Homo sapiens: one gene and its partners. The protein of the gene in region 7 purifies or fractionates together with the protein of the main gene of each other region. This does not show direct contact. Each region holds a gene or a part of one and is shown on either strand. Other genes may lie near its edges. The genes, in order: MTPN, LSM14A, ELMO2, MOB2, CSRP2, CBS and ARHGAP11B.

The links.
Region 1: the proteins of ARHGAP11B (region 7) and MTPN purify together in Homo sapiens (affinity purification with mass spectrometry; one large-scale study listed by BioGRID and IntAct). This does not show direct contact.
Region 2: the proteins of ARHGAP11B (region 7) and LSM14A purify together in Homo sapiens (affinity purification with mass spectrometry; one large-scale study listed by BioGRID and IntAct). This does not show direct contact.
Region 3: the proteins of ARHGAP11B (region 7) and ELMO2 purify together in Homo sapiens (affinity purification with mass spectrometry, with the first as the bait; one large-scale study listed by BioGRID). This does not show direct contact.
Region 4: the proteins of ARHGAP11B (region 7) and MOB2 purify together in Homo sapiens (affinity purification with mass spectrometry; one large-scale study listed by BioGRID and IntAct). This does not show direct contact.
Region 5: the proteins of ARHGAP11B (region 7) and CSRP2 purify together in Homo sapiens (affinity purification with mass spectrometry; one large-scale study listed by BioGRID and IntAct). This does not show direct contact.
Region 6: the proteins of ARHGAP11B (region 7) and CBS purify together in Homo sapiens (affinity purification with mass spectrometry, with the first as the bait; one large-scale study listed by BioGRID). This does not show direct contact.

Annotation. Positions count from the first base shown.
Region 1 is NC_000007.14:135,970,518-135,974,652, forward strand, and holds part of MTPN (myotrophin), read right to left. Parts: intron 1-4,135. UniProt on the Homo sapiens protein: Promotes dimerization of NF-kappa-B subunits and regulates NF-kappa-B transcription factor activity. Plays a role in the regulation of the growth of actin filaments.
Region 2 is NC_000019.10:34,224,022-34,227,298, reverse strand, and holds part of LSM14A (protein LSM14 homolog A), read right to left. Parts: exon of another isoform or gene 892-3,277; coding exon of another isoform or gene 868-891; exon of another isoform or gene 835-867; intron 1-834. UniProt on the Homo sapiens protein: Essential for formation of P-bodies, cytoplasmic structures that provide storage sites for translationally inactive mRNAs and protect them from degradation. Acts as a repressor of mRNA translation. May play a role in mitotic spindle assembly.
Region 3 is NC_000020.11:46,396,149-46,400,283, forward strand, and holds part of ELMO2 (engulfment and cell motility protein 2), read right to left. Parts: intron 2,624-4,135; 5' UTR 2,549-2,623; intron 1,872-2,548; exon of another isoform or gene 1-1,871. UniProt on the Homo sapiens protein: Involved in cytoskeletal rearrangements required for phagocytosis of apoptotic cells and cell motility. Acts in association with DOCK1 and CRK. Was initially proposed to be required in complex with DOCK1 to activate Rac Rho small GTPases.
Region 4 is NC_000011.10:1,469,459-1,473,593, forward strand, and holds part of MOB2 (MOB kinase activator 2), read right to left. Parts: intron 1,962-4,135; coding exon 1,837-1,961; intron 1,031-1,836; coding exon 714-1,030; 3' UTR 1-713. UniProt on the Homo sapiens protein: Stimulates the autophosphorylation and kinase activity of STK38 and STK38L.
Region 5 is NC_000012.12:76,857,762-76,862,207, reverse strand, and holds the end of CSRP2 (cysteine and glycine-rich protein 2), read left to right. Parts: intron 1-1,794; coding exon 1,795-1,924; intron 1,925-2,567; coding exon 2,568-2,661; intron 2,662-3,179; coding exon 3,180-3,256; 3' UTR 3,257-3,499; downstream 3,500-4,446.
Region 6 is NC_000021.9:43,055,380-43,059,086, reverse strand, and holds part of CBS (cystathionine beta-synthase), read left to right. Parts: intron 1-118; coding exon 119-253; intron 254-679; exon of another isoform or gene 680-796; intron 797-833; coding exon 834-942; intron 943-2,199; coding exon 2,200-2,284; intron 2,285-2,987; coding exon of another isoform or gene 2,988-3,029; intron 3,030-3,707. UniProt on the Homo sapiens protein: Hydro-lyase catalyzing the first step of the transsulfuration pathway, where the hydroxyl group of L-serine is displaced by L-homocysteine in a beta-replacement reaction to form L-cystathionine, the precursor of L-cysteine.
Region 7 is NC_000015.10:30,624,740-30,628,927, forward strand, and holds the start of ARHGAP11B (inactive Rho GTPase-activating protein 11B), read left to right. Parts: upstream 1-1,388; 5' UTR 1,389-2,081; coding exon 2,082-2,210; intron 2,211-4,188.

The DNA of each region.
Region 1 (4,135 bases), on a different chromosome or scaffold from region 7:
ACATAGGTAGGAAAAATAGTCAATGGGATATTTTACTTTATTCAATACAGCTTTGCTTTTTTAAATAACAAGCTCATAATATTGTTATAATTTCTATCAGTTTTAATTCATTAAATTTTTAATTATCTGCACTAATAAAAGGAAAATGTTTAGAATCTCAAACCAAAACACTTTATATAGCCTATGTACATCTGAATGAACATTTATGTTCCAATGTAAAAAAAGATCTTCCTCTATTTTATATATTTTTTAAAATGACTAAAAGCATTAATAATTAGAAAAGAATCTATACTAATGTTTCTCTGTCTACTGAGGGCACCTGTATCTTATACAAGCTGACATATGCTTTCTGAATAGGTCACCAGCCCTTCTGTAGAAAGGGCAACACACAGTGATACATTTTTATAAGAAAGAAACTAATAATTTAAAGAAGAAAAAAAAGGGAAGCTGCCTAAAACCAATAAATGCAAAGTAGATTGAATCAGGACCTCTTTTAAATTGGCTATTTTATTAGGAAAGTGAAAAGTGATCTCAATGAGTCTTGGAATTTCTAAAGATTAGAGTTGATATCTTTCTCAGGTTCAAGAGATTCTATCCTTTCACATGGTGCACAATTGTTGCTTTTCAAACCTATTAGAGTGTCAACGGCAGATGTAATTAGAATGGAGGCTGGAGGGAAAGGAAACCACAGAGAAAGGGAAGTTAGAGACCAGGCTTCTATTTCACAGCAAGTGAAATAGAAGTACATGTAAACAAGAGAGTACATGTATCAGACCTGCTGAAGATTAAAAGGGGCTATTTATCAATGCAACTCACAAGCACTCACCTGTAAGCATGTTGGATCCTCAAAATCCACCAGAAAGCTCACCTTTTAGTAGTCTCAATGGATAATTACCATCCTGCTATGATTATTTTTACTATTTACTCAATAATATAGTACCCCCCTAGTTTCTGGCCTTATTGAGAAATGAAGGTCAAGGGTATGCTGAAGTAGTTAACAGCATGGGGCTTTTGAAACTCCTTCAGAACCCAAGGAAGTGAGTTCACATCTCAGCTTCACCACTTAAGAACTTTATGATCTTGAGCAAGTTATTTAATCTCTGCCTCTAAAATCTCTAAAATGGGGTTAACATTATTAATAATGCTCATGGCTTACTGTTGATAAGTAAATGAAATAATACCTGTATACTGCATCACAATCCTCAAATACATAAAATTTAATAAACATACTTTTTTCAAAATGTTACTTGTTTTATTTAAATAATTATGAATAGAAATCTCAATAATTTAGTTATTTTTGTTTCTTCCTAAGGCAAACAAACAAAATTTAACTTTTTCTGGACTGTGTAGGATCACAATTAGGAACATAAATTATAAGGTTAGATTATATGTGACCATAAATACAAAACATTCTGCAGGCTATCAGTCACTCTTATGGACACGTCTTGAGTAATGACAGTCTCTGATGAGAGTTTAAGTTTACAGAGATGTTTGTCTCTATACTAATTATTTCTGAATTGTTACATTTACAATTTTTAAAATACGGTTGCCATTTTTGTCTTCATTCACAGTCAGAGCTAATTAGTTGTACCGGCTTCTTACAAGCCTCTTTCTCGTTTTCTTAATTCTAAAGTGTTGTTAGCAAAAAAAAAAACCACTTTTAAAGCAAACTGATATGGTTATAAATACACACGCGCACACGCGCACGCGCGCGCACACACACACACACACACACACACACACCCCATGTAGATTCAGACAGTTCTGGGTTTAAAATCCAGTTATGCTACTTAGTTTGTGACCTTGTCAAGTTACTTCAGTTCTCTAAGCCTCAGGTTCTTCATCCTTAAAATAAGATTATTACTTATACTGAAACACTGTGGTAAGAAGCAAATAAAAACTTAGGTAAAACATCTTGCAGAGTGCTTTCCAGTACCTGACAATGTAAGTCATCCAGTCAATGGTAATTATTATTCTGTAATTAATGAAGTATGCTGAAATTATTGCTAAGTTAAGAATAAAATGAATTTCTTACCAGAAACATGATTTTAATGTGTAAAATTCCTTGGCGCTATGTTGGAGACAGAAAGATGAAAAAGAATATATTATCTACCCTCCAGGAGTTCAGAGCCTAATGAAGACACATGTAAACAAAATCACAGCAATCTGATGAGCAAAACAGTAAAAGAAGCAGCACTCTATGTGAAGTCAATCTTTTTCAGCCAGTCTCCCTCACTGCCCTTAAAATATTAATACTTTTGTGATTTCTCATTGCTTATTTTAAAAGGGCCAACTCCTCATCGGTATGGTGTTTTTCTGTTAGAGGTGATACTTACCCTAGGAGGGTAAATAGGAGTTTAACAGGTTGGGGGTTAGGGATTGAGGTGAGCAGACTTGGTCAGGGAGGATGAAAGAACACATGTAAAGATCTACAAGGAAGAAACAGGATGGCAGGGTCTGGAGCAGAGTGCTTAGAGAGAGGCAAGTGTAGAAAAGCAAGCCCAGATAATAGTGGCCTAGTACACCATACCAATGAGGAGCTGGCCCTTTTAAAATAAGCAGTGAGAAATCACAAAAGTATTAATATTTTAAGGGCAGTGCAGGAGACTGGCTGAAAAAGATTACATGCTTATATTCATGTTATTGAGAGATCCCTCCACCTAAACTGTGTAAACTGACCAGGAAGGGGTCAATTTTTGCTGCTTCTTTCCAGCCTGGACTATATATTCTTTCTTGACTATTTTCTTATAGTCAAGAAAGAAAATATAGTCCAGGCTGGAAAGAAGCAGCAACTGATCTAAAGTAGTAAGAAGAAAGGAGAGTGAGGAATGGATGAGGGAGACTAAGAAGGTAGTCTTGGTAACCCTCAGAAATCTAGGAAAATTTCCCAGTTTCCAGTTTGGACAAATGGTTGGGTCATGATACCATTAGTGAAAATGGAGACACAATAGGAATAAAAACAGTTTTTGAGAGGAAAACAGCTCAATTTGGAATTTGTCTGAACAGAGCTTATGCAGTCTGAAATTCAGGTGAGGCTAGAATTAACTCCAACAGGAGAACATAAAGGCAGAAATGTAAGACAAAGTCAAAAATAATGTCACCCAAAAGAAACATCCAGATCAAAAATGGGGCTATGAATATCTCTTATAGCTGCTCATGAATACCTTATTTTCTGGCTTTCACTTGTTTTCCAGCCGGACAACTGAATTTTATGAAAATGAGATGTTATTTATAATTTGCATACTACTATAAAAGTATGAATTTTTTTTCACGCAGGTCTGCTAAATATAGATGCTTACGTTTCCTGAAAACTGTGTCGAACTTCTGTACTATCATCCCAGGACTACTAAAGAGTTTAAGACCTGAAAGATGCCTAGTAAAAATGAATGAATTAACTAAATGTGGTCCTTAAGTCAGTCAAGAAGCCAAATGTAGTGTTGAAAGACTTTAAAATTGCTTCAGATATTGTCTTAAAGTTATACATGAAACATTTAATGTAATAATCTAAATTTTTCTCTAAATAATCTAAATTTTTCTCTCAATACTGTCTTTTCCATTTCAAAATACAATTTTCAGTGGTTTGGGGACTGTGAACTGACTTTTCTAAGTTCAAGAACTCACCTAAAACCAATGATTTAGGGATACTCACACTTCGAACTTTAATAGAGAAGTCAGAGGCAGGTAGAAAAGTGTAATTACTGACTTTTAAAAATACTAATTTATAAAGGAAAAACGGGTTCACACCTGTGAACCAGTGCTTTCACACCTGTAATCCCAGTGCTTTGGGAGGCCGAGGCCAGAAGATCGCTTGAGGCTAGGAGTTTGAGACCAGCCTGTACAACAAAGTGAGATCCAGTCTCTACAAAAAATAAAATTTGCTGGGTGTCGTGGTGTACATCTATGGTCCCAGCTGCTCAGGAGGCTGAAGTTACAGTGAGCTATGATCACGACACTGCACTCTAGCCTGGGCGACAAAGCAAAGACCCTGTCTCCGAAAAACAAAAACAAAAAAACCCTGTTTCCAAAAAAAAGAGGAGGAGGAGGGGAATACTAAAATGCTTATCTTACTCTTACAGGTAGATTCTTAGGTTAACAATATGAGAGATCTTCACAGGAATGTTGAGGAGAGTTTTTA
Region 2 (3,277 bases), on a different chromosome or scaffold from region 7:
CTCAAGTTTATTTTAAATTATCTTTAAATATACTCCCCCACTTTTACTTTCATAGAAAAACCTGTCTCACTCATTTCCACGAAACTCCTTCTATAACTTCCATACTCAGTAGTACCTCATTGTTGACTGCATCTTCCAGTCAGTAGAGGTTAATGCAGTGGTGAACCCCACCCCAAAATACAGGCATACTTCCTCATCTTTGGTTGTTCTCCCTAATAATTTTTTAAAAGCAGTGATAGGACTTAAACCCTCAACTCAATAGTCAAACTCATCAAATACAACTGTCAACATACTTTGAAACAAGTTTCATAAAATCCCCAAGTCTTTGATGTCTTTACTAAGCAATAAAATACCCAGTCAGTATAACATTTCTCTCCAAAATTTCATGCCAGGAGGAAGCAATGGTTTAAAAATCAATTTTACAAGGATAACTCTTAAATCTGAAATAAGCTCTGAAAAGTAGAAAGCTGACTGGGGAATTTTTAAAAAGTAACCAGTGAGGAAGCAATAAAAATCTCAAGATTTCCAGAGAGACTGACCCTAAACTAAAGGCCTGTACAAAGGGCTGGAGCCAAGGGCTTTTATTTTCCTCTAGACCAGCTGCTACCATATACCTGGTTTTTACTGCTGATTCTCACCCCAACTGTTAGAAACAGACATTTCCTAGGTGAGACTTAACTTCATCTGTGTATACAACACCAAAACATTTGCACCCCGTTATTAAACTGAAATACATATGGTATGGCATAAGTTGACAGCAATGAGCTACAAGATGAACCTGCTGTCCCCCACAAAGCCAACCTTCACACCTCCCAAAGTATTTGTTTTTTTTACCTTTCAGAAAGCAGTACGATCAATCCAGACCTTTTAGGGTCCAAAAGCTGTGGTTTTCTGAAAGGTAAAAAAAAAAAAAAAAAAAAAAAGAGAAAGAGATGGGGACAGGAGAGGGAGAAAGGAGAAAATGAAAGGGGGAGAGGAGAGAGAGCATTATGCTGAGTCATTCAGACACCTTGTTGTCTTTGAACCCCATCTGAGGAAACACAGATGTGATTTTTATCACCCACCATGGTGGCTTAACCTCCCTGACAGCAGCATATAAAACAGGAGCTGGTTACATTATTATTGCTAGTCCTGATTTCCATTCTCACCTCAAAAAAGAATGGGCGGTGGGAGGGGGAAAACACCATACAACCAAACTTACCATAAGGTTATATTTCTTTCTTTTCTTTTTTTTTTTTGAGACAGGCCTCGCTCTGTCACCCAGGCTGGAGTGCAGTGGTGCGATCATGGCTCACTGCAGCCTTGACCTCCCAGGTTCAACTGATCCTCCTGCCTTAGCCTCCTGAGTAGCTGGGACTACAGGCATGTGCCACCACTCCAGCTAATTTTTAAACTTTTTTATAGAGATAGGGACTCCTTATGTTGCCCATGCTGTCCTTGAATTCCTGGGCTTAAGCAATCCTGCCCTGGCCTCCCAAAATGCTGGTATTACATGTGTACACCATTGCACTGGCCTATATTTACAATATTACCCTTAAGGAAAATCAGGCCACAAGTCAAGAGAGTGAGTTTTGGATTTGTTAGCTTGTACCTCAATCATGACAATTAACTTCTTGGGGTCCTTAGTTTCCTTATCATCTAATGTGAGTGTGGTAGCGTAGAGATTCTAGTTTGGCTGATTCTTTTAAGGATTCTAAAACTTTATGATTTTATCTTTACCCATGTTTTCATTAAACAACCAAGCTCATTTATGCTTACCCCCAAACCACAATGACTCATGCTAATATAGCACAAAAAATAAAGCCAACTCATTTCATGAAGGCTGCAGAAATGTCATCCATGTCCATCTCTGGGAGGAAGTGTTAGATGTTTCAGATACAAGTTTAATCTTCAGTGGTAAATCTCCTTTATGTGACAGTGATCACTCACCATTTTCTACCTTTAAAGGTGCCAGGTGAAATGATTTTATGATTTAGGAGGTGTAGGGCTGCTGGGTTCGGGGCTCTAGTGGCAGATGAAAGGATTATTCAACTCTGGAATGAACAATCAAAGGCTAGCTACATTGACAGACCTTTGGTCTCACTGAAGGCTGGAGTGGCAAATTCCTAATCAACATGACAAGCAATTACTTCAAGCCCACTATGGCTCCATGTTGAGCTGAGTGTTGTCATGGAAAGAAAAGTAGAATACATATTCACTAAAGCCAAGAGGTTCTCATCTAGCTGGTGATGCAGAACAAAACTAAATACAAAAAATAGGGAATGTCAGTGTATTTAAAATGTGTGCCAAAGAAAGCAGATAGCCACAGGTCAGAAGAGGAGGAAATCAGTGTAGGAAGGAAGAGAAGACAGAGCAAAACTTGGGCAAGGCTGTAAAGGATAAGTGAAAGGGGGGACCTGACTTTTAGCTATGTCTGTCTCCCACCAAAATGTAAACATCAAAAGGGCTGGGCCTACATCGGTCAGCACCAATGCTCAACATAGTGCCTGGCATATCTGAAGAATTCTGTATATTTGGTAAATGAATGGGGATGGAGTTGGAATCAAGCACAATGTGTATGTGAGATAACCATGAGGCAGCTTGCTTGAATCAGATAGGTTAAAGGGTAATGAGGAATGAGGCCAAATATATCAAGTGGGATCCTCACACAATTAAGAAGAGCAGGGACTACAATGTCACAACTGAGCCTCCTAAACACTGGGCCATGCCTGAGGGTTCGCTGAGTCCATCACTCCTGGCAACACCTAAGCAGAGGCTGGACTATCTGTCAAGGATACAGGAGCGTAGACAAAGATGCATGGAGGTAACTATGACAATGCATTTTCAATTCTGCAATATATGTGATACGAGTTTTACAAAAGGCTCAAAATGATAAACAGTGTGACATGGTGTCAAAAAAATGTTTGTATTAGTAACCACATGGAGCACACACAGTTACTGCATGGAAGGTTTGTTTTTTCCTTTTTTTGAGACGGAGTCTTGCTCTGTCGCCCAGGCTGGAGTACAGTGGCGTGATCTCGGCTCACTGCAACCTCTGCCTCCCAGGTTCAATGATTCTCCTGCCTCAGCCTCCCGAGTAGCTGGGATTACAGGTGTGTGCCACCACGCCCGGCTAATTTTTTTTATGTTTTTGGTAGAGACGGGGTTTCACCATGTTAGCCAGGCTGGTCTCGAACTCCTGACCTCAGGTGATCCGCCCACCTCAGCCTCCCAAAGTGCTGGGATTATAGGTGTGAGCCACCACGCCCAGCTGAGATTGTAACAGTTAGAACATCCC
Region 3 (4,135 bases), on a different chromosome or scaffold from region 7:
GACACACGACAAACCTCAGAAAAGAAACTGGCCCTATCTGCATAATTTCTGGGGAAAATGCTCTGCTCCAGTTACAGCAAGACAGGGAGTTCTTGTTCTAGGGGTGGCGCCATCAATCTCTGGATGCTTAGAGATGCATCCTTATCCTTATCGGCAAAGCTGCTGCAATTAGTAGACAGGACTGCACGGTTGTGAGGTCAATTTTAAAAACTGAGATATAATTTACATACAATAAAATGCAGAGGGCTTAAGGGTACATATGTTTGTATATATAAATATACATCATATAAATATACACATGCATCTCCCTGTAACCAGCACTCAAAACGAGACACTGAACATTTTCATCACCCTAGAAAATTACTTCATACTTCCTCTTCCCGTCAATCCTTCCAGTCCTTTAAAGGGGAATTTCTGACTTATCATCATCCATGAGTTTTGCCTGGTTTTGTACTTCATATAAATGGAACTATACGATATGACTTTTTAGATCATTTGTTTAGTTTGGCTTCTTCTTATTTTTAAAATAAGCAGGCACAGAAGGTACAACAGAAAGAACACTGGGCTGGGATAATTGTCCCTGCTGAAACAAGTGACTGGATTTAGAACCAAAGGCCTCAGGACCCAATCCTAGGTCTTTCACAATGTATACATGGCCCTTTAACCAAATCTCAGTTTTCTTCTATTGAAAGATGTGAGTGTAGAACTAAAGCATGTCTCAGGTGCCTTCTAAGTCTAAAAGTCCATGATTCTTAAGTGGAATTTAAAAAATCCAAGTGAGGATGCCCATTTTAAAGTCCTTACCAAATGAAGTTACACCCTTCCTTAATTTCGATGGTGCTGCTAAGAAACAAACCCCATGATTTTTAACTCCTTTCTGAACGCCGTCTTTGGAGATTAAGCTAAAGCTCATTAGGTTATAGCTATTATTTTCTCTTGACCCCATATGACATATCCTAGATTGACTCTCTCTTTATTAAAGTTAGCCCTGAATGATTCTCGGCTGTTCAAAAATTCGTATACATTTTAAAGCATGGAGATTTGCAACCACCAAACTATTTGAAAGATATTAATAAGCCCCCATTCTCAGTGACTCTGTCCTTCCCACAAAGCCCAGGCAGCCTCTCTGAACTGAATGACACTCTCCACAACCCTGCCATAGCTGATGGGACTAAAGTGAATACCCAACTTTAGCTGAACTATTCCAGTTCTTTCTCTTGAATTTAAAAGACAGAGACTGGCTGGGCGTGGTGGCTCATGTCTATAATCGCAGCACTTTGGGAGGCCAAGGTGGGTGGATCGCCTGAGGTCAGGAGTTTGAGACCACCCTGGCCAACATGGCAAAACCCCGTCTCTAGTAAAAATACAAAAAGTAGCCAGGCATGATGGTGGGCGCCTGTAATCCCAACTACTCGGGAGACTGAGGCAGGGAGGACAGCTTGAACCCAGGAGGCGGAGGTTTCAGTGAGCACAGATTGCACCATTACGCTCCAGCCTGGGCGACGGAATGAGACTCCATCATAAATAAATACACACATACATACATACAAACAAATAAAAGACACAGACTAAGGGAACTGGGTGATAATGACCCTGGAGAAGTAAGATCATAGTAAGCTTCAGAGCGAATACCATGGCAAGCCAAAGATCCGTACGAGCCAAAGATATGGAGAATAAAAAACCAAGAGCCTTTCAGAGGAAGTGATTCTGCAGGAGGAATCCATAAATATCTAAATGAACTGAGGCCAGAAATCAGAAAGAGATGGAAAAGCCATTACCTGCTAACTTTCCAGATTATGTGGCTATTACTTCCTATGCTCGGGGTACCTGAAAGTCCACTGTATCCTGCCAATAAAACTCCTATAAATTAAGCTAGTCTATGTTTCTACTCATTGCAACTAATACGCCTAAGACCACAGCTGCCCCCAAGCTCTGCAGGAACTCTAAAACGGAGGTCTGAGCAGACAGCAGCATCACTAGCATATGATGATGGTACTGGGTAAGCACTTAATTAACAATGGCTGAATTAATGAGAGCAAAACCCATGGGTTTGCTCTTACCCACTAGATAAGTCTGATTTGTTTGAAACAGATCGGTTATATGGTAACTTCATAGTAATCATATATCTAGTAGTAACGTACAGGTAGCCTCTTTATTTTTATTTTTTTAAATTTTTTTTAAAAGATGGAGTCTTGCTCTTGTCGCCTAGGCTGAAGTGCAATGGCATGATTTCAGCTCACTTCAACCTCTGTCTCCTGGGTTCAAGCGATTCTCCTGCCTCAGCTTCCTGAGTAGCTGGAATTACAGATACTCACCACCACGCCCAGCTAATTTTTGTATTTTTAGTAGAGACGGGGTTTCACCATGTTGGCCAGGCTGGTCTTGAACTCCTGACCTCAGGTGATCCATCTGCCTCGGCCTCTCAAAGTGCTGGGATTACAGGCGTGAGCCACTGTGCCCAGCCCAGGTAGCCTCTTTATAGTTGATTGCTCACTTCTATATCATTATTATAGTTGATGCTCATAAGAACTCTGAAAAACATTCCTACCTTACAGGTAAGGCAACTGAAGTTCAGACGGATTGACAAACTTGTTCTCCATGTACCTCTTTCTACACCTCCCTCCTAAAAGAAGGAAGGAAAGAAAAAAAATGAAGGGAGGGAAAAGAAATAAAACTAAATCAACCCAACACATCAGAACTGGGTCTCAAGCCTAGGTCTTAGGACTCCAAAGCGAGTTCTCATCGCTCTATATAATACTTCCTTAGATGATGACATTAGCTAGCAATTACATAATGCTAAGGCACTATTTTAAGGGCTTTACATATATTAATTCATTTAATCCACACAGCAATGCTGTGTGGTATGTTATTATCCCCACCTTAGAGATAAGAAAATGGAGGCACAGAGGAGTTAAGTAGAAGGCTCAGTGTCACATAGCTAGCAAGTGGCACAGCCAGAATTTGATACCAGGTTGTCTGGTGTTGCTGGAAAGCCATGAGAAAGCAGGTGGCTCTGCACCTGACCCGCAGCAGGTGCTTTGTGGAGATTTCTGGTTTGTGTATCTGAAACCAAAGCACACTGAGGCTAAGAAACCTTCACAGCAAGAACTCACCATTGTAACAGAAGACAGCTCTCCACTGTCTACAGGTGGGCCACACTCCCTCGTGTGCTATTTGGTCCTTTACAATCTAGCCATCCTGGACTACGGGCTATTTCTATAAGGCAGGCCATGTTCTTTCAATTCTTCTGTACCTTTGCACATTCTCTTCCTCCTACTGACTGTCAGAAGAGCTCCTATTCAAGCATCAGAGCCTAGTTCGGATGTTACCTCCTCCTTGTACTAGTCTTAGCTTTCTCTACTTTCCCTGGCAAAAGTAAATAGGACAGGGGCCTCTGTGTTCTCACAGCATCCTGTTCATACTTCCGTTAATGAGTACGATTTTGTCATACTCTATTACAGTTACATATTTACACATCTCCACTAGCTCCTCCTCCAGAACAGGTATAACTCTGCAGTCTCATAACCTAGCACAGCACTTGGTGTCCAGTGAAGGCTCAGTAAGCACCTGTGTCTGCTTAAACCCAATGGCTCTGATTTCTTCCACTCCTGTGAACCAGGCTGGCTCCAAACAGACAGGGACAGGCATGAACTGTGCAGGCTGTCTGGTGTTCCCTCTGCGTCCCAATACCCTCTAACTACACAGTATTTCCATTGTTTAACAGTTTGTTTTGGCTGGGCGCAGTGGCTCACACCTGTAATCCCAATGCTTTGGGAGGTCAAGGCAGGAGGATCACTTCAGGCCAGGAGTTCGAGACATTTCTCTACAAAAAATAAAAATTAGCTGGGCATGGTGGCGTGTGCCTGTAGTCCCTAGCTACTCAGGAGGCTGAGGCAGGAGAGTTGCTTGAGCCCAGGAGTTCGAGGCTGCAGTGAACTATGATCATGTCACTGAACTCTAGCCTGGGTGACAAAGTGAGATCCTGTCTCTATTAAAAAATAAAAATAAAATAAAAAACTGTTGTTTTCATATCAAACATTAGAATAAGTCTTACTGAAAAATCAGGGTTAGCACCCCTAACTCTAGTTGAAAGAAAGAGGAAAACCTCCCTCTGCTTTTCTCCCTATCGAAAAGA
Region 4 (4,135 bases), on a different chromosome or scaffold from region 7:
ACCTGAGAGAATTCTTTTTATTACGAGTGAACAGATGAACTAAGGTAAGCGGGTCTCAGCCTTCCGCTGGTGCAGCATCTCCACGCAGGGCCTCAGCCCCGTCCTGGCCTTGCCTGAGGACTGCACCATGGGTGTTCCTTGGGCATGGAGGAGGCAGCAGGAAGGGGTGACAGGAGCAGGAGCAGGTGCAGGGCACCTCACACCACAGGCCTCCCCCACCTCTGAGCTGCCAACAGCCAAGACTCCTGGCGAGGCCGGGAGAGGAGGGGTGAGAGGGAAGGAGGGTCTCTGTGAAAGCAAGCCCCACCCCCAGAGCAGAGCAGAGACCCAGGTCTGCAAATCACACCCTCCCCCCACGAGTTCCTCCTTTGAGGCCAGCAGCACCCGAGGGAGGGCAGGGGCTGCACGGAGACCAGAGAAAGGAAAACCCCACAGAAGAAAACTCAAAGCATCAGTCCCATGCGTGTCTGCTGAACGAGTGAATGGGCCCAAAGGCTCTTCTCTACAAACGGCACGCATCCATCCGACAGGGGGCCACAGGACACGGCCGGGGCCGTCTGCGTCTGTGCCTGTGCAGCCCACACCAGTGCAGCCCGGGGCCCTCTCAGACCTCACCACACGCGTGCCCAGCACATGTGTGCACACGCAGATGCAGGAGAGAACACACACCACCGTCTCTTTGCACACGTGTGCCCCTGTCCGGCCCGGGGGGCTCATCTCTCCTTCACGTGGTTCTGTGCTCCCGGGCCCCCGCTGCCGGCCCCATCCCCACTGCCCCCACTGTGGACCCCGCCGGCCCCGCTGCATAGCACCTCGGTGAGGTCGTCCATGATGGCGGTCTCTTTGGGGTCCAGCAGGTTGAACTCCCGAGCAAAGAGGATGAAGTGGACGTAGAGCGTGTTCAAGTGTCCGTGCAGCTCCAGGGCCAGCGTCTCCTTGAAGTGGGCCCAGTAGATGTGTGCCAGCACGTGGAACAGGTGTCTGCAGATCTTCCTCACCAGGGACTCAAAGGAGCTGGGGAATTCTCTGCCTGGGGAAGGCCACCGTGTCACAAGCTGCAGACATCCCTTGGCCCCAACAGAGGCCAGGCCCCTGGCACCCAGCCTGGTGGGTCTGGTACCTGCCACCCACACCTTGACCCTGCCACCCTCAGGGCCTACAAAGCCCCAGCAGCAACAGCTTCTGCCCATCAGCAGGCACCACAGGGACTTGCCAACCCCGGGTCTGGGCTGCTGAGACCTCCCTGCGTGCTCAGGCTCCGGAGGCTGCACCTGCCCTGAGGGCTGGGAGCTCGTTGGGCCATCCTGGCCACCTCCTCAGGAAGGGGCCTGTGATCGGGCACTCGGGCCCCCGTGGTGTCTCCCTGATGGACACTTGGGGCCATCTCCCGGGCCAGGACGGAGGTGGCGATGGTGGCACAGGCCTCTCCTGTTGTCCCCTGCCGTCCCTCTGGCAGCACGGGAGTGGCGTGGAGCCCCACCACATCCCACCAAAATCTGGACACAGGCTTGGCGGCTGATACCCAGCCCAAGTGCCCACAAGCTGGACGGTGAGAGCAGCATGAGCGGCAGAAACCAAGAGGGGCCCAGTGCAGCCGCATGGCCCAGAGGGCCAGGGAGATGGCCCTTGGCCCTGGCTGGGCTGACCCCTGCCCAAGGGCTCCGGCCTCACCCCACAGCCCAGGTGGCTCCATGCTAAGCAGGGACTGGGGTGGTGCAGCTGCCGCCCTCCGTGCCTCTGCCCCTCCCGGCACAGGAGCTTGGTCACTTGCAGACACGTCCTGAATGCTCCCTGCCCCACTGTGAGGATGACCGCCCAGTGCTGGGGGAGACGAACCGTATTTTGTGGGGAACACGTCCTCATCCGTCACCAGCTTCTGCACGGAGCTCATGACGAAGTCAACGTACTGTGGGGCCGTGCACTTGACCTTCTTCCCCCGCTCGTCATACCAGTAGTACTGTCTGTGGAGACAGAGACACGGTCAGGGCATGCGCCCGCTGCACACCCACCCAGCCACTGGGTCCCACCCGCTCAGGTCATCTGCGGGCAGAGGTGGCGCCAGCAGCGGAGGTGTGGCAGACCCAGGTGTCTCCCTCCCTGGACATGCACACTGTCCCCACACACTGTCTGCGGGGACCACACTGCACTCTATGGAGGGGTCTGCCTGCGCTGACTTAGAACTACGCCAGGATCACGCTGGGGAGCCTGCCAGCCACATGGCTGTACAGGTGTGTGATTAAATGAAGGGGTCATCTTCGTTTTCTCCGCTTCTACATGGCTTCAGTTGTATTCGTTTACACAAGTGCGTGCTGCTGTTTTTCTGTTGTATTTTGAAAGCACACAGAGGCTCCTTCTCTTCCCAGGAAGCTGTGCTGTGGCTCGCCGGCCAGGCCCCACCCTTTGGGAGAGCCCTGCTCTGACTGCTAGAAGCCAAGCCCCTCTCCGGGGAAAGCAGAGGAGGGCGGTGGTCTCTGTGGGTACCTGCGGCTAACAGCCTGGCCAGGACAGGGACCTGGCCCCCTCTTGCCCCTGTACACAAGGGCGGCCAGTCCTCATGTGAGACTCGTGGCCCCAGAGCAGGCTGGAGCATCCTAGGGACATGGACACCCTGGGTTTGCCTCTTACTGTTGGGTCCAGCCATGACAAGGGTGTGCTCTAGTTCATGTTAATATAAGGTGACCCCCAGCCCCTAACACCCCTCCTCCCCCAGCACAACACCAAAACCCAGGGCACCCACCTGGCAGCCACCACCCCTCTCCCCCTGCCACGGTGCTGGGTCTCAGTCCTCCAAGGCCATGCCCACAGCGGCCGCCCCCGCAGGCCTGAACCAGGGCATGCTGGGGCCGATGCCGCAGCCCCACCCACAGGCAGTGGAGAGTGCTGTGGTGGGAGTGCTCACACCTGAGACACAGCCAACACTATGGGTCGGGATTTCCTCCCTGAGAGCCAGCTCCCAGCTCACCACAGGTGGGAATGGGCCACACAGCACAGAGCAGTACTGGCCACTGAGCAAACGCCCCCTCCACACCATGGCCACAACCACCATCGCCTCCACTGCCCCAGCTAGACCAACAGGCAGTCTGCCAGTACCAGGCTCCACATGAACCGCTCCCACCCTCCTCATCCAGTCACGGTTCCTCTTGGAATGGCCCTGGGTGGGGCAGTGCTGAAAAGGATGGACCCAGGCTCCACTCTGGAGGCCACTCTTCTCTTGGCCAGCTCCAAGCATCGTGCCCTGGGTTCCAGAGCCCACCAAGGCACCTGGGGAGACGCCCCAAGGGCTGAGACAGGGCCACGGGGGGCTCGCCCACTTCCTGCGCAGCCAGAGAAGCCATCCTCCCAGCTGGGCACAGGGCCTCCAGTGTCTCCGGGCACAGGGCCTCCAGCGTCTCCGGGCACAGGGCCTCCAGCATCTCTGGGCACAGGGCCTCCAGCGTCTCTGGGCACCCCTCTGCTGTGTCCAAGAAGCCCCTCAGCCTGTGCACTGCAGATCCCGGGGGGAGTCACCAGAGTTACCAAGAAGCTAGAGGATGACACTGCAAGCCCTGCATGCTGGCACCCTGCCCTCTGCAACAGAAACAGCCATCAGGCCACCTCCCAGCACCACCAGGGCCCTAGGACAACCCCCTCCCAGCACCCACCTCCAGAATGCAAACCAGGAGCTCTCATGTGTGCCCTGTGCGGGGCTGACTCAGCCCACCCGAAGGGGAAGTGCAGCCCCAAAATGGACAGGCCATGAGGACGGGGATGCAGTGCCCACACCTGCCTCTCAGGTGCTGTCCTCCCCCTGGGACAGCTCTGCATGACCTTCACGCCCACCTTCCCAGGCTGCAGGCCTCACCGTGGGCATCGCCACCAGGCTGTCAGACCCTCTGAGAATGCAGAGACAACAGTCCTTTCAGCATCTGCTCCTCGAGAATGATGTAGAGGACGCACGTATCCCCACTGTCCTGGGGTTCCCAGATGGTGTAGGGGAGGCCCAGCCCCTAAGGGCCAGGCTGAGGCCCATGTTTCCAGGGCGAGGACCCAGCCAGGATGGCTCAGCACTCTGCAGGAGTCAGACACTGGCTCCAGGTACCCTGACACTGCAAGCTGACATCTGATGCACCTGGCCACAGGTGTGCGACAGGTCTCA
Region 5 (4,446 bases), on a different chromosome or scaffold from region 7:
ACTTCACATTTTCACATCCATTTTATATTGAGAAGTCCAAAATTGGTGTAATAGTCCAACAAAATGGCCTTTGGACAAGACCATAAACCATGCCAGCCACCGTGCAGCATTAGCATATGTTAACTCGTGTAATCCTCACAACAGTCCTACAACATAGGGCTTCCTCTCTTTCTTCAGAACAGATGAAGACAAGAAAAATTAAGTAAAAACTTTGCCCAAAGTCACACTGTTAGTTAATTGTAGAGCCTGGAACTTAACCTAGTCTAACTCCAAACCTTATGACCTGAATGAAACGTGGTGCTTGGCTTGGCTAAAATAATAATTACCATGTATTGAGTCCCTGTTGTCTGTTGAACATTTATCTTCATTCTGTATAATCCTTAGAGTAACTCTGAGGTATACTTTGTCCATTTATAGATGACGACACTAAGAGTCGGGTCACACAAATAAGTGAGGGAGCCAGGATTTGAATCAATGTCCATTTGGTTCCAAAATCTGTTCTCTTCCTACTGCAGTATGTACTACATTGAGGCTCACCTCTGTGTTCTTTGAGCTTCTTCCACCCTCAGAGTTTCTGGGCCATGATGCCCAGCTTACCTTTTTATCTTTGTTAAAATTTATTTTACTTGTTCTGCTCTCCTTTTCCATCTTGTTACATCTATTTTTGTGTTTTAAAGGTTTTGTTGAAAACCTTTCAAAATCCATATCCCCTCACTCAACCTGCATCTCCCTCAATCCAAACCAGATTTATCCATGACCCCAAAAGTAAGTCAGTGACTATGGCCATAGTTTTAAAGCACAAAGACCAGTGAACCCTCCTTTTTTTAAAAAAAAAAAAAAATATATATATATATATATAGACAGGGTCTTGCTATGTTGCCTAGGCTGGCCTCGAACTCCTGAGTTCAAGTTATCCTTCCACATTGGCCTCCCAAAGTGCTAGGAAGACATTGTTTTTCCAGTAGGAAAAATTAACAGTTGTGGAGTGCTATCATTTTATCTGCTCAGCTAATTTATAAGGTTCTAAGAGGGCTTAAAAAAAAAAAAGTCTTCTCAAAGCCCGAGAATGTTCTGCACATACTAGGTACACCTTACTGAATGGAAACAGTTCCTACTGATAGCAAGAAATATGGTTTACTCAGTGATCTGTAAATAGTGACAAAAATACCACCCTTACCAGAGAAAAATGAAAGATAAACAGATTGCATAGTAATAATCAAAATTTATAAAATATTTTTCCATGAAGAAAGTTGGCTATTCACACTTTCCTTTATTCAAGATATACTGGGAGACTAAGTAATCTATAAAACATGCTTAAATTTCTTAGTTACAGACCAAAGTTAACTTACCTATTTGTGGAATTTTTAAACTACTTAATAGTGGTTTTTCCGACTCCTGTGAAGTAAAAAGCTAGGTATGATTCCAGTGATATTATTCTGGAGTAAAAATATATGCTCTGGTAAGTTTTTATAAACCGTAACATAATTGCTTAGTGGAGAGGCCAACACTGAGGAGTAAATGAATTCTGTTTAGACTCAGAGGGACAGATCTTTACGTTTGGGTCCCTATCTGGTTTTTTGAAATAATAATGAGCCCATAGATAGGTTCAAGTAGTAACTCTGGCTGGCACCTGAGTCACTTCTTCTTTATTCCCTCCCCTGTGCTGGCCTGCAAAGGCTTCCAGCTTTGAGGCAGTGTAGCGGTTAAGTCCCAGAGTTCTATTGTTCCTGCCTTGTGTACTTAAAAGGGCCCTGTGGAAACTCTTGCCTACTTTTTTTTTCCTCTTTTCACAAGTGTTCAGCCTCACAGGCCTACAACAAATCCAAACACTTCTAAATTTGCTCAGAAATATGGAGGTGCTGAGAAGTGTTCCAGATGTGGGGATTCTGTATATGCTGCCGAGAAGATAATTGGAGCTGGAAAGGTAAAGTGCTATTTGGAATTAATAACAGCAAATGACTTCTCTCTGCTCCCTTTCTCCCCTAACCCTTCCACATTCCTTGCTTGGGTGATGTCTTACAAATCACTGTCTTATATGAAACTTTTCTTTAAATGCATTTCCATCAGAATCATTAACTTTTTTGAAGTGATTCCCTTATTTGACAAGTCATTTTTCTGTTTAAAAGAACTTGTTTTCATAGGGGGCACTCCTGAAGGTTAAACTTTAAAAGGCCAGACTGTAAGGGAATCTCCAGGTTATTCAGTATAGTGAAAAAAGCAGGAATCCGAGTCAGGACACCTGATGCGAATTCAGTGTGTGGATTTGGAAAAGTTACCAGCTAACCTCTTTGAGCTGCGCTGTTCTTGGCCAGAAAAAAGATGGTCTCTTTAAAGGAGCAGACTGGGCTTGTGGTTAGGACTGAGGCTGCTCTTAGGGAAACAGCCTTTCTGTGGGTGATCAAGAGTGCAGATACTGAGGACTGGTTTCAGCCTTCTCATTGGAGCTGAACCACAGAAGTCAGGAGCTTGCTTTGAGATGATCATCCTGAGCCACTTCTTGCCATACATCTAAATTGAACTGTAGGAAACAGGCCTCTCAAACATGCTGACACATTCATCTCTTCCAGCCCTGGCACAAAAACTGTTTCCGATGTGCAAAGTGTGGGAAGAGTCTTGAATCAACAACTCTGACTGAAAAAGAAGGTGAAATCTATTGTAAAGGTAAAATTCATTTCAGTTACTGCTGTCCATATGAATATTCCACACTGGTTCTTGTTTAATGAAATGTCACTGGCATTAAAAAAAAAAAAAGAAAAGTATGCCACTATTTTCTGAAAATAAAATATCCCAAGATGCTTATAGATGACAGAGAACCACAGTTAAGTTCCTGATCATTTAAAACTCCCCACCAGATAAAAACACCACAAATAGCCATCTTTTGCCTTCATGTCTTGAGCAAAGCGTAAGTATATGGAAGAAAACAGACAAATACATACCTTACCTGGCCTGACTCATGCTTGCAACTCAGCAGGACCACGCTGAACACTATAGGGCCAGAATGTGTGGACTTGTCTTTGCAGCTTTAAGATATTTAGTACATGACACATTTAACATCTTAAATAAGTTGAGCTCTTTTACACAGCAGTTTAATTTATGGGGGTTTGTTGAGTGGGTCTTAAGCAGTGCTAGCAAAGCTTAATGGACTTGCACTAACTATCCTTCCTCCCTTTCCTTTGTAGGATGCTATGCAAAGAACTTTGGGCCCAAGGGATTTGGCTATGGCCAAGGAGCAGGGGCTCTTGTTCATGCCCAGTAAGATGTAAACCCTGAACTAAACATCACACACTGAGAATCTCTTCATAATCTAGGCACAGATAATCTTTAACACTAAACTACTGTGAAATTCTACCAGCATTAAGTACTGTATATCGCCCTGTACTTGGATAGGCTGGCTAACTCGTAGGAAGAGAGCACTGTATGGTATCCTTTTGCTTTATTCACCAGCATTTTGGGGGAACATTTCTTTTACATTTTAAATAAAACTTCAGCTTGATTTGGGTGTTCATTGTCTTTTAATTAATCTTTTGGAGGAGATGCTCTGATTTCAGTTAGTGGAAAGTCATTTGGTTCCCTACCTTTGTTACCCCATTACCCAGCTGACTCACTAGGTTCATGTTTGCATTACAGCTGTTGAAAAGGATCTCTCTTTCAAGCAGGCAAGTGTGCCTTAAGAGTAAAGGTTGCAGGCCGGGCGCGGTAGCTTACGCCTGTAATCCCAGCACTTTGGGAGGCCGAGATGGGCAGATCACGAGGTCAGGAGATCGAGACCATCCTGGCTAACACGGTGAAACACCGTCTCTACTAAAACTACAAAAAAATTAGCCAGGCGTAGTGGCGGGCGTCTGTAGTCCCAGCTACTCGGGAGGCTGAGGCAGGAGAATGGCGTGAACCCGGGAGGTGGAGCTTGCAGTGAGCCGAGATCGTGCCATTGCACTCCAGCCTGGGCAACAGAGCGAGACTCCGTCTCAAAAAAAAAAAAAAAAAAAAAAAAAAAAGGTTGCTAGGCAACAGGCATCATTATTTCAGCTCCTCAAAGCTGGTGTTCAGCAGTGCAGCATCTCCTCCTTTCCCTCCCCACCGTACTCTTAAGTAAGTTCTTTTGATTATACCTAAAATTCAGTACAAACAAACACCTATGGGCAATTATAGAATCAGAGACTTAGTATGATTCTTTTTAAAGACTCTACACTGTGATCTAATAGATGGTGACCTACTAAGTCCTGGAAACTGGGGTGTTTCACACATTTTGATTCTGTATAAGTAGCAAAGAATGTTGCATTGTCTGGGCACATTCAGCTGGCTTAGGTAGAAGAGGAGCATTAGACTTTATAAGGTATGGTTTCATTATTCCCCCAGAAAGTTTAGTTCTTTACTAGAGATTCAATCCAACTCCCTCACCCCCAGGAGCAGGGTGTAATAGGTCTGTAATGTGTATTATTAGTAAAA
Region 6 (3,707 bases), on a different chromosome or scaffold from region 7:
CTGCCCAGTGTGACAGGCAGGAGAGCGGTCCCTGTGGCCTCCTGCTGAGGTGCTGCCGGCGGGGGTGCGAGAGCGTTTGTCCTTATCCTGATCCCCCCGACCTGCCCTCTTCCCTCAGGTGGTGGCACCTCCGTGTTCAGGAGCTGGGCCTGTCAGCCCCGCTGACCGTGCTCCCGACCATCACCTGTGGGCACACCATCGAGATCCTCCGGGAGAAGGGCTTCGACCAGGCGCCCGTGGTGGATGAGGCGGGGTCAGTCTCAGCCCCTGCTCAGAGCTCAGTCCTGGGTTCTGTCTGCCCAGCTCCACCCCGTCAGTGTCACTGGACAGGGCAGCCATGCAGACCCTGCAGCTGGGCTGATAGGCCCGCCTGGGCCGCCTCATACAGACGTTCAGGGCATTGGAGGCCCCTTGCCGGTCCCTGAGCAGCCTGGGGCAGGGCTGCCGTGCTCACTCCAGGCCCTCAGACCTCAGCCCACCCACCCTTTGTGTGCAGGCTGTCCTGGGCCCACCTGGAGGTCAGGGGAGAGATGCCCCGAGGACATGTCTGACAGCAGAAAGCCTTGGCACACATGCCCAGTGACCACTGAGAGCCCCACGTCGCGGAAACCTGACGGCTGGTCACCCTTGACCCTGGCTGAACGGGTCCAAGGACTCTTGGTTTCTTTCTCCCCACCAGGGCCCAGACTGGTTCCTGCCGCGTGTAGGCTCGTGGCAGAGGACTTCCATGTGTGGCCAGAGAGCGCTCCTCCCTGGGGCAGCTGAGCGTGTGCCCCACCGTCCTGGGAGGGGTGAGGTATGAGCGCTGACCCCTGCCTGCCCCCGTCCCACAGGGTAATCCTGGGAATGGTGACGCTTGGGAACATGCTCTCGTCCCTGCTTGCCGGGAAGGTGCAGCCGTCAGACCAAGTTGGCAAAGTCATCTACAAGCAGTTCAAACAGGTACCCAGTCACCTACAGGCAGCTCAAACAGATGCGCAGTCACCTACAGGCAGCTCAAACAGGTGCCCGGTCACCTACACGCAGCTCAAACAGGTGCGCGGTCACCTACAGGCAGCTCAAACAGGTGAGCGGTCACCTACAGGCAGCTCAAACAGGTACCCGGTCACCTACAGGCAGCTCAAACAGGTGCGCGGTCAGCTACAGGCAGCTCAAGCGGGTGCGCGGTCACCTACAGGCAGCTCAAACGGGTGCCCAGTCACCTACAGGCAGCTCAAACGGGTGCCCGGTCACCTACAGGCAGCTCAAACGGGTGCCCGGTCACCTACAGGCAGCTCAAACGGGTGCGCGGTCACCTACAGGCAGCTCAAACGGGTGCCCAGTCACCTACAGGCAGCTCAAACAGGTGCGCGGTCACCTACAGGCAGCTCAAACAGGTGCCCGGTCAGCTACAGGCAGCTCAAACAGGTGCGCGGTCACCTACACGCAGTTCAAACAGGTGCGCAGTCACCTACACGCGGCTCAAACAGGTACTCAGGCACTTCGGGACCCCAGAGGGTGCCAGAGTACTCCAGCCTCGAAGGCGGGACACCGCGCTTCCCGTGTGGGGGTGCTGGGTCCTCGACCCTCAACACCACTTAGGCCGAAGCTGGCTGCACCCCTCAAACCATGAAGCTGAGAAGCACCCACTTTACAAGTGCAGCAGCCGGAGAGCAGGCTCTCATCAGTGCAGGCTCATCCACACCAGCCGTGTTTTGGGGACTTAAGGAGGTCATTCGCGCTCAGAGGCTGTCCCGGGCACCATGCGGCGTCTGCCGGGGTCTTTCTCCTGCCCAGCCTCATTTGCCTGTGCATGCACTTGGTTATCCAACAAGAGCTAGAACATTCTGGGAGAAGCCCACGGTGGCTCCTTGCCGGGCTGGTCAGACTCCGTGGTTGTCCTGAGACACCCACCCTCTGCTGCCCTGAGGGTGGCCCAGGAAAGTTTGTGTGACCTTCCACACGGATCCCCTGGGACATGCAGGTGTGGCTCTTGACACTGGAAAGGCTGAGGGTTCTGCCCAAACCTAGGAGTGAATTCGACTTCTTTCCCATCTCACACACACACCCGAGACGTCACCCGAATCCACGTATTTCCCACGTTCGGCTGCCACTGCCTCCCGGGTGGGCTTTGCAGGACCCACCATCGCATCCCCTCTCACTCCACAGAAAACTCGTGGGGCCATGTTCCCCCTGCCACTGACCACGCTTCCCTTGCAGATCCGCCTCACGGACACGCTGGGCAGGCTCTCGCACATCCTGGAGATGGACCACTTCGCCCTGGTGGTGCACGAGCAGATCCAGTGTGAGTGGGGCCCTGCTCTGTGCGTGGGGTTCTCACTGGGGTCAGGCCACCAAGCCTGGCCTCTGCCATGGGCAGCAGCTGGGCCCCCCATCCCCTGCGGGGTGTTAGGGGAGTGGGTGGTGCCGACCTTCAGTGACACCCAGTCTTTATGCCTGGGCCTCCCACATGCCCTGGGCTGGTGGGCTGTACCTGTGATTCCTGCAGGGACCCCTCATCAGGCCACACTGGGTAGGGCCCTTTGTCCAGCATGCAGAGGCTCAGGAGTCCAGGCCCCTTGCCTCCGGGGAGGCCAGCAGTCTTGGGGATTCTCAGGGACAAGCCCAGAAACATCTAGAAGGGTTTCAAGTCCTGACCCTGGCATTCGGAGGGCTGCTCTGAATGGAAGCCTCATGTGGGTCTCACAGGAGCCACTGATGGGCTGTCCTCAGAGCCCCGCTCCCAGCAAGCTCATGAGGTTTTGCAACTCCTGAGCGCATCCCCGGGCGTCCCCACCACATCCCCACAGGCCAGGAGAGTCGCTCGCAGGTTTTGGGTCATAGATGGCAGCCCTGGGCCTGGGGCCCACAGGAAGAGTTGGGAGGGGCCCTGGAGCCTGGAGCCTGCCCACCCACCAGGCCTGTGTGCAGGGGGTGAGCGCTCGGTGGCTGAGGCTGGTCCGTGAGGGCCCCAAGTCTAACCCCATCTCCCGTCCTTGGCTCTGCAGCGCAGGACCAGGCCTGGGCAGGCGTGGTGGGGGGGCCTGCAGGTAGGTATCACCCACCCCTCAGAATGGCTCTCAGGCTCAGATTCACAGCCTCCCCATGGCAAATGGAGGCCTTCCAGGGTCCTGGACCCACCCCCAAGCTTGGGTAGGAGGGATCCCCCTCTTAATCTCACATTTACTTGTGTTTGAACATCTCAGAAAAAAAAAAAGATGCAAATTCCAATGTCAGGGTCCCCAAATCAAGTCTTCCTGGAGCATGTCCACGCTTGTCACCACCGTCTGTGGCTGCTTTCAAGCACGTCAGGGCTGCGTGCTCATAACAGAGACGGCACGGCCCCCAAGACCTAAAATACCACCAGCTGGCCCTTGTCGGAAAGTCCCCTGGCTGGCCCTAGTCCATTGACTCTGGGCCGAGCTGCCAGGGCCACAGAAGCCTGCGGCACTCAGGGCTCCCAGGGCTCCCTTCTCCAACAGTTGCTGTGCCTCCGTTTCCCCAAAATGCAAGGAGCTGATCTCATCTGTGTTCCCTATCTTTTCCTGGGGCTCTAAGTGGGCCACCCCAAGGGACCTCTGCCTACAAAGAGAGGAGTGACAGCCGTGGCGGAGTTGGGACGGGCTCCGAGGGCTCTTCCTCACCCGCACCTTGCTCACCCCTCTGTGCCTCATGACAGCTGGTGTAGGGTCCTGTGGAGACGCAGGACCAAGAGGATGTGTGGGGAG
Region 7 (4,188 bases):
GATGGTCCCACTCAGCCATCCACCTATACTTTCTACAAAGTCAATTTATACTGATTCTTCAGATCAGTTAATCACTGGTACGTTTCCCCTCCCCGGTCAAGGATCTTTTATTATACGCTATCATAGAATCATATTCCTTTCCTTAGCGCACTTCTCTCAACTGATAAGTGCCGCCATTAATGTACTTACTTGATAAATATATGCCTGCCTTTCCTCTTCCAGGGCCGAAACTGTGCCTGGTTTTGCTCATCATTCTACAGTATATAGCACGAGTTCAATAAACAGTTGTTAAAGCAACATATTTAACTTACATTTTGTTCCCATCTCTTCACTCAGAGACTTTTCTTTGGATTGGGAAGGGTAAAATATCCGAAGATTTGAACTCCAAAAGAAACAAAATGATTCTATGCAAACGTTTCCTACTTAAAACTCATTCATTGGGCAAATATTCACTTAGTCCCTGGCACTATTTGGTAATAGGAATACAGGAGTGCATATGGCAGATAAAGTTCTGTTGCTGCCCTTACCAAGTTTCGTGGGGGTGAGATGTGGTGTTAGTAAATGCATACTATTTTGTCTGTATTTAAATCGAGTCCAAATCTCTCGCTCTACAGCCCGCCTTGGGATGTTTCTTATATCCCAAGAAACAGAATATTTTGATGGGATCGCTGATGTTTCAGACTGCAAAAGCAGCTCAGGGCGTTTGCAGTCGTGCAAGTCAACAAGATAACCGTCTGGACCGGAAGCTGGGCTCCTCCCGGTCTCCTAACTCCAAATCCAACACCAAGCTTCTGCAGCTGCCACCTCCCGTAGACTTCGCATTTCTTCCGCACTCTCCTCTCACGACGGGTCTTCTTTGTTGTACTTAATTTCCTACGCAATAAGATTTCAGCATCACCATCAGTCCCCCAAAGACTAATTCCCACAGAGCCGAAGTTCCCACCAAAGGCCGAGGGTTAAGGTTACTAAAATCAGCGTTTCTGAATCCTGTCTCAAGTTGTCTCAACTGGGCTTCCGTAGAACGGTTTCTTCGTAAGAGGGCCTTCAGCGACAGCCGAGCTCGGAAAAGAACGGGAATAAGTTGTCTCTTACATTTCCTCAAATACTGTGAATGGTCTGAGGCGCAGGTCAGGTGTATTTAAAAACCTTTAAACAGTATTCCCCCGCCCCAAAAACTGGCCTTGAAGGAACAAGTGAAACTCATCCTGCTTTTCATGTTTGCTGGGTTTGCCCGTTACACCCCTTCGCCCGCACCTATCTAGACAGGCAGCTCTCGGCCACCCTCCGGGGTCCTGATTTTGAAAAGAGGAGTGGACCAATCAGATGTGGAGCGCTGTTTGGCGCTGCCATTTGAGCCTGGGCTGAAACTGCGGGTGTGACCCCCCCGTGGTGGCTCCGGGTGTCTGCAGTGGAGCTGGGGGCGGAAGCATGAGGCTAACGGCTTGGCTTCAGTGAACGCACCGGGATGTGCAGGCCGGGAGGTAGAGGCAGGCTGATGGGGGAGGGAACGAGCAGCCTGTGAGACGGGGTGACGGCGGCTACCAGCCCGGGCGGGCACCGGGACTGGAAGAGTTGCCTGAGCAGCCGGCTGGTCCGGCGGCCAGGCTAGGGCGGGGGCGAGCGCCCAGTTGAGCCTGCTGGGGCTGGAGGAGCGAGAAGGGTTCTCTTCACATTTCAGAGCGAACCAGACGGACAGTAAGGTTTGGAGGAAGGGGGATCGTTGGAAGTAGCAGGAAGTGGAGAGAATCTGGCAATAGGCGAGAAACCGAAAGAATCAGAAAGAAGTCTATGTGAGTAGCTGAAAGCATTGGGTGACCAGAAAGAAGGTCGCTGTAAGTGAAGGAAGAGTGAGGTGTGGCTGGATCAAAGGGCTAAGAGAAGCGGGTCTGTGTAAGTGGATGTGAGTGAGGATCAAGGAAAAGCCGTGGAAGTGGCCGGGGGTCGGGGCCGCAGAAGTGCCAGACGGGGCCGGAAAGCAGCCGAGCGGAGTTCAAATTTGAGAGCGTTTGGAAATTGGAAGACTTGGTGGCGAACGAGGGTCAGGACCTGCATCCTGCCTCAGAGTTATCGACGTATCCGGAATGTGGGATCAGAGGCTGGTGAAGTTGGCCCTGTTGCAGCATCTGCGGGCCTTCTATGGTATTAAGGTGAAGGGTGTCCGTGGGCAGTGCGATCGCAGGAGACATGAAACAGCAGCCACGGAAATAGGGGTAAGTTCTGTGAAAAGGGATTTAGGTTTAAAAGAAAGGGCACACCCTTTATCATCACTTATTAGCAGATCGTGCTAAAATGTTCACTCTGTGTATCAAAAAGAATGGTTAGGTGTGTAATTCAGTTCAGATGATCGATTGCTGATATTTAAAAAGTGACATTCTTGTTTTTTTTTTCCCCAAGGATTTTTGATCATTGAGAGAAAGTTGCAGGATTTTCCAACTTCAGCACTATTGACATTTTGGATTAGATAATTTTTGTTAGGGGAAGACGAAATGCTGTTCTGTGAATTGTGGGATGTTTAGCGGGATGTCTGTCTTTTACCCACTAGATGCTGGTAGCATCTCTCAGTTGTGACGATTAAAAATGTCTCCGGATATTGCCAGCTTACTGTATTTGGAACAGGTAGTACGTTGGGAGGGACAAAAACTCTACCCCTCCACCCTTGTTTTAGAGTAAGGTTGTAGAGGGACAAGGGAGACCAGTGCATTTTCTACATGAATCTGTAGATGAAGTATGACAGAACATTAGAAATAGGCTTCAAATGATGACTGCATATTCACTAATTTGGGAAACAGATTTGCTGCTTGGCCATATCATACTTTTGGGACAGCAATTTTTTTTTTTGTATGAGTAAATTGAGAAGCCAGAGTGGAATAATTGAGAAGTTGTTGATGTTTTGGTGGTTGAAATAAAGGGATTTTGAATGAGATTTTAATAGCTCTGCCACATAATCAGGAATTGCATTGTGAAAAATAAGCTGAATGTAAAGCATTTTATTTTAAATTTATGTGCCTAATTTATATGGTACTTCCTAGTACTTGGAGACAAGCTAATAAAGTTAATATACGTTGCTTTTAATAGTTTATGGTTTCTAAAAAAAAGTGCTTGGAGAAGAAAACCACTAACAAAAGTAATATGTGTGTCTCTTAATCGCTGATAAACTTTGGAGAAGTTATTTTTGTTGGTAGCAAATTAATGGCAATACATGTACTTACATTTAAAAAGCTACAGTGATTTTTTTCTGATTGTAAAACTGGCTTTCCAAGATCTCAAATGTAGCTGATTTTGTAAGTATATGGAAGAGTTTGTATATGGACTTTTTTTCACCCCTTTTCTTTTCTTTTCCTTTTTTTTTTTTTGTTTTTGAGATGGAGTCTCCCTCTGTCGCCCAGGCTGGAGTGCAGTGGCGCGATCTTGGCTCACTGCAAGCTCCGCCTCCCGGGTTCACGCCATTCTCCTGCCTCAGCTTCCCGAGTAGCTGGAACTACAGGCGTCCGCCACCACACCTGGCTAATTTTTTGTATTTTTTAGTAGAGACGGGGTTTCACTGTGTTAGCCAGGATGGTCTCGATCTCCTGCCCTCGTGATCCGCCCGCCTCGGCCTCCCAAAGTGGTGGGATTGCAGGCGTGAGCCACTGCACCTGTCCTTTTCACCCCTTAACAAGAAAAACTGTTGCCTGTTTTCAGAGTCGGATAGACCTGAGTTTGAGTGCTGTTCCACCCCTACTACATCTGTAAACTTGGGCTGCTTGTTTGATTTCCCTAAGCTTCAGTTTTATATCTATAAAGTGGGAACGTATTTCTCCTTGGATTATTTAGGGATTTTTAAAAAGTGAAGCTCTTTATGTAGGCCTAGCACAGTGCGTGTCACATGCCACTTCATCTAATGATAGTTGTCATATCATTGGTCTGCCTCCTAATTGGTAATCACGCCATATAAATTCAGCTAGAAACACTTATAAGAATATTCTAATGAAGAAATGTAGAAGATCATTGTGTTATGAGATCTAATGGGATAGTTTGTTTGAAAACAATTTCTTTAGCCGACTGGTGTTTGTTAGCTAACTGTAGTTTTAAGTTTTAAAAACATTTTATGAGATTAAATTTTAGTGGTTACTTGTGAAGCCAGTTATTCTAAATAATAAGACTTAAGGAAAAAAACACGCTGAATTCTAGTTATATATAACAGAAGTA